Linked DNA regions of Homo sapiens: region 1 is linked to region 2. Evidence: fine-mapped expression QTL. Tissue or cell type: whole blood. Region 2 holds a variant in brackets; the other region holds the start of a gene. All regions are shown on one strand. Distances are between the middles of the regions.

Region 1 (2,754 bases), 46 kb after region 2:
CTTGGGTGCAAAACGATATTCTAGTTTTGCACTAGAAGTGCTCAGCTAAAACTGTGCTAGATAAATAACTAAAAAAAAGGAGAGAGAAAAATGAAAAAAAAAAAAAGAGCGTCAGAGAGGAAACGGGAGGGTCTCAGTGGGGAATTCGGCTTCCTGTCGTCTGGGTTTTGATTTTGAGTTGTACTAGAGGAGTCTTTATGTCTGGAATGCTGAGAAAACCAGCCCAGGCCAGGCGGGCTGTGAGGGCAGGATTTAGAGGCGTTTAGTTTCTTAAACTCTATAGTCTGGATTCCGGTGTCAGGGGCCTGAGCCATTTTCCTCCTCCCCTACCCGTCAGCTCCCACTCCCTCCAAACTTCCTAAGAAAGTTCTGAGTCCTGCAGAAAGACAGGCTTCTCCATCTTCCACACCCGCGCAGATTTCTCTTTCCTCACACATGCACGCCCAGGCCCAGCGCCCCAGCCCCTCACCCCCAGGATAACTGTTAGAGTCTCTCACACGGGGCTGTCATCATTAACACCCCGAGATTCCCGAGGGCTAGGACACTGAGGCCGGTGTCCACATCTGCCAAATTCCTCCCATAGCTGCGTGCGAACTGAGTATGTTCCTAAGACGCCTAAGGAGTTCAGCACGGGGCTCGGGGTCCACTGCGACACTGCGCGGACAGCGGCCGCTCGGCTGGGCCTCAGGTGGGGAGGGCTCGCGGTCCTGCCCTGAGCCCGGGCTCCGCAGCTCGGCGCCTGCACCGCTCCCCTCGCCGAGCCCGCGGCGGAGTCTGCCGGCCGCACGCAGCAGGTCTGGGGCTCACCTTGAATCGGGACCTGCGGGGACCGCCGTGCGGCTTCCCGCTGGGTGAGCGCCGCAGCCCTGAGTGGCGGGGCAGTCATTCCCCTTTTCCAGATGGGAAAGCCAAATCTTGAGCCCAGCGCCAGCACCGTGTTCTCAGGTGCTGGGACTTCCAACCCGCGATCTCCTCACTGTAGTATTTCTGGGAACCTTCCCTGGGATTCCCCTCGGGGCGTAGAGGGAAGGAACGTCTGGGGACAAGCGTCCAGGAAGGGTCTGGATTCTTTGTCCTCCGCCGGGAGCAGGCCCCACCGCAGGCGCCAGTGTGTGGGGCGCCCCGGAGACGGTGGCGGGGACCGAGCCCCTGCCCCGCGGAGAAGCAGAGGGCGCGGGACGCCGTTCCCCAGCGCTGCCGCCGCCGCGCTCGCCAGGGCCTGGAGTGGCGCGGAGGGCGGCGGGCTCAGACCAAAGTCCACCAGGGGGCAAAGTCCGCGGGCCCCAAGCCCCCACCACGGGGTCGCGGGGGTTTGCTCCGCCTCGTGAGCTTGGGATTCTGGTTAAAAAGGCGGCTGGGCGGAGCTGCGGGCCTCCGACGGCGGGAGGACAGCGCTGCGAGGAGGCGCCCGGGACAGTCATGGAGCGCCGCCTGGGAGTGAGGGCCTGGGTGAAGGAGAACCGGGGCTCCTTCCAGCCCCCGGTCTGCAACAAGCTCATGTGAGTCCAGCACCCCCATGGCCGCCCCCTGCCCTCGCCTCCTCCCCCTCCTCCATCTGCGCCCTCACCTTCCAGCTCCGAGTTCCTGGACCCAGAAGCTTGCAGAAGGACCGCTTTAATCTCTTGGTTCTTGGGGGAAGATGGAGACAGGCTGTTCCGGTTCCACCACATCGGTCTGTTCCTCTTTCTTGTGACTGTGGCCTTGACTTCTGAAGAAGGCTGAGCTGGTTCTCAGGCTGTAGGAGATGACATGACAGGGTGCACCTCTCCTTCCAGGGCTGAGAAACAATTCTCCAACCCCAAGTGACACTGTGCATTTTGGGAAAACTCAAAAGTGTGGGGAGGGTGGTTTTCAAGGCAGAAATGCACTAGAATGTAGGCCTGGGGGCAGCCAAATCATACACCCCAACCCTGTCCCAGAAGCCACAGGCAAAGGGGGAGGCAGAGAATCCGCTCCTTTGGGAAGATCTTGATGTCTTGCTTTTTTCAGGGCCCCTCTATGCAGGTGTGCACGAACACACACACACACACACCACACCAGACCCTCCCTAGGCCACCTCTGCCAGTAGCCTCTGCCTGCAGCACCCAACAGGGTTGGCCATCCAGCTGCCATCTTTCTCAGGCAGACCTCTCAGGCCCTCCCCTGTGGTATGGTCACCTCCCTCATCCCCCCAGTTCCATGGCGGGGCCCCACATGCCAGCTAGATCAAGGTTTACATTCCCCATTTTTGCTGTGTCCACAGGACATGGTCAGTAGGGTGGCACCTCAAGGCAAACAGCAGGCCCAGGACTATGCCAAGTGTTTTTACATCATCTCATCTCATTCTCACAGTAGCACCGTGAGGGGGGATTTTCATAAGTAACTTTTCTAGTGTCACGGAGCGCCTGTGCGATAGGCTCCAGACTCAACCCACGGAGCAGTTCGACTCCAGAGTCCACGCACACTCTTGGTTACCATGCAATACCACATGGCCAACAGTCAATATCTCCCCAAAGATCTCTTCTATCACTGTTGTTGCCCACCCCCAATTAAAGATGTAGCATCATCTTTGCCTCCTTCCAACACTTCATCCCCATCTGCAGTCGCTCCTTCTCAGTCCTCCCTTCGCTCCCCCTGAGGTCTCGCGTCCATCTGCCCGGGCCTCTCCCTAGCATTTGGTGGTTTGCTGGCATCATTGGTATTCTTGCTTCTGCTGTACCACGCCCACCTCCACCTTCGTCTTCACAAGGCAGTCTCCTTGTGTGTGTGTCTGTG
Region 2 (2,754 bases):
GATAATTTTGAAGATTTTAAGAAAAAATAATTTTTAAAACTTACAAGAGAAGTAACTTTAAGCTTTGATCTTTTACAATTTACTTTAATTTACATTTTTATTAAAATAGGTGCAATTTTGTGCTGTTTTGGTTATCTCTGCTGCATAACAAACCCCAAAACTTAGTGCTTTAAAATCAATTGGCCAGGCATGGTGGCTCACTCCTATAATCCCAGCACTTTGGGAGGCCGAGGCAGGAGGATCACTTGAGGCCAAGAGTTCAAGACCAGCCTGGGCAACATAGAGAGACCCCCATCTCCACACAAAAGAAGCTTTTAATTAAAAACAATTATTTTTAATAAAAACAAAATATTTTTAGCTCTCAGGGTTACCTGGACTTAGTGGTCGCTTATGGGGACAGGTCTCTCATGTAGTCGCAGTCAAATGGCAGCAGGACCTAGAGCAAGCTTGTCCAACCTGCAGCCTATGGGCTGCATGAGACCCTGGATGGCTTTGAATGCAGGCCAACACAAATTCGTAAACTTTCTTTTTTTTTTTTTTTTTTTTTTTTTTGAGATGGAGCTTCGCTCTTGTTGCCCAGGCTGGAATGCAATGGCGTGATCTCGGCTTGCTGCAACCTCTGCCTCCCAGGTTCAAGTGATTCTCCTGTCTAAGCCTCCCAAGTAGCTGGGATTACAGGCACCCACCACCATGCCCAGCTAATTTTTGTATTTGTAGTAGAGACTGGGTTTCACCATGTTGGCCAGGTTGGTCTTGAACTCCTGACCTCAGGTGATCCACCCGCCTCAGCCTCCCACAGTGCTGGAGTTACAGGCATGAGCCACCATGCCCAGCCCATAAACTTTCTAAAAAATTATGAGTATTTTTTGTGTGCGTGATTTTTGTTTTTAGCTCATCAGCTATTGTTAGTGTATTTTATGTGTGGCCCAAGACAGTCCTTCTTCTTCCAATGTGGCCACAGAAGCCAAAAGATTGGACACCCTTGGTCTAGAGTCAAACGTTGGCTCAACTGGACTGCACATCCAAGATGGCAGCATCTTCTTTCACCTATCTTCTTTCATCCTCAGCTGGGATGGCTGGAACAAGTGGAATCTGGCTGAATCTATTGCTTTCTCCATGTGGCCTTTCCATGTGGCTATCTTGGCTTCCTTATAGTATGATGGCCTCAGAGGAATCAAATTTCTAAGATGATAGCTGACTTACCCCAGAGCAAGCTTTCTAACAGACCCAGCTGAAAGGCAAAAGGCTTCCCATGGCCTATCCTCAGAAGTCATGCAGCCTCACCATCACTGCTTTCTGTTGGTCAAAAGCGAGTCACGGAGACAACCCAGAGTTAAGAGAGGGGAATACACAAGGTTGGGCATACTAGGGGTGTGAACACGGGGGTGCTATCTTGGAAGACTAGCTGCCACAATGTCTGCCCTCTGCCTCCCATGAATCACATACCTCCCACGTGCAAAATACAGTCGCCTTCCAAGACCATTAAGGTATCAGCCATGAAGCCTTTAGGTTCAGGCTCCAAATCCAGGACCTCAACCTCTAACTCAGGTCCAGGTGCAAATAAGGCCCCTCAGGTGTGGTTCTTTAGAGAGGGTT[T/C]GTTTTGCCCTGAAGATCTGTGAGCTAAAGAGACAAGTTGTCTTCCCCCATGGCCAACGTACAGCAACAAAGTGGACACAGGATAATGGCAACAGACACTCTCATTCAAAAAGGAGAAGAAACTAGCACAGTGCAATTCCGAAAGCAAGCCAGGCACATGTCACCAGTGTCTTCATTAGACCTGGTCCTGCTCTCAGGGAGGGGCTGTCCCTAGCTGTTGGCTTCACACTCAATTATCCATCCTTCTCCATAAGAAATGACCAGGGCAGCTGGGCACAGTGGCTCACGCCTGTAATCCCAGCACTTTGGGAGGCCGAGGTGGGTGGATCACATGAGGTTGGGAGTTCGAGACCAGCCTGGCCAACATGGTGAAACCCCATCTCTACTAAAAATACAAAAATTAGCCAGGTGTGGTTGCATACATATGTAATCCCAGCTACTCAGGAGGCTGAGGCAAGAGAATCACTTGAATCCGGGGGATGGAGGTTGCAGTGAGCCAAAATTGTGCCACTGCACTCCAGCCTGGGCAACAGAGTGAGACTCCATCTCAAAAAAAAAAAGAAAGAAAGAAACTAATGACCAGGGTCTGCTGCATTTTGAACTGTCTCCGTCCCTTCCCACCCAACTTGATACAATTCTTTCAAAAACTTGTGGGTTTCTTAAATATCAAATGATAATTTACTACTTAAGACAATAGCCATACCCCCATTTCTCCCCTAGTAGGCCTTCTTCTACTTTAAGCCACTTGTGAGGTTGCTGTGGGATTCTTAGAAGTCCTATTGTCTAGCAGAGAGGATCTAAGATGTATACTCTGAAGATTCTTTACTGGGCGTGGCAGTGTGTGCTTGTGGTCCCAGCTGCTCAAGAGGGCTCTTTGTACCTAAGAGTTGGAGGCCAGCCTGGACAACATAGCAAGACCCTGTCTCAAGGGGGAAAAAAATATTCTCGGAAGCCCTTTTGTCTATCCAAAAGGTCTACAAAAATAATGCCCTTAAATTTTTCTGAGGTTTTAATAAAGGGTTTTACAGCCACATTCTTGATTTCACATTTACCCAAGGCCACAATTTACGGGCAGTGCCCTAAATTTTATCTTTGCTCTAAGACCATTTCTTATTTTGAAAGCCTTTTACTGGCTGGAACAACAGTCCTGGGCTCCTT

The links. PIP is the estimated chance that this variant, and not a neighbour inherited with it, causes the effect.
Region 1: HAAO starts here. The variant in region 2 is fine-mapped to the expression of HAAO in whole blood (GTEx, PIP above 0.99).

What each region holds. Positions count from the first base shown.
Region 1 is chr2:42,791,202-42,793,955 of GRCh38, reverse strand. It overlaps HAAO (3-hydroxyanthranilate 3,4-dioxygenase), which reads left to right and starts at 1,373. Exons shown (of 10, transcript NM_012205.3): 1 at 1,373-1,499. The coding sequence starts at 1,420. RefSeq lists silencers at 637-726, 807-906, 1,087-1,526.
Region 2 is chr2:42,836,947-42,839,700 of GRCh38, reverse strand. No RefSeq gene overlaps it. Among named protein-coding and RNA genes, the nearest start is that of TRI-TAT2-1, 28 kb to the right of the region's middle. The variant T/C (reference allele first, on the strand shown) is at 1,597.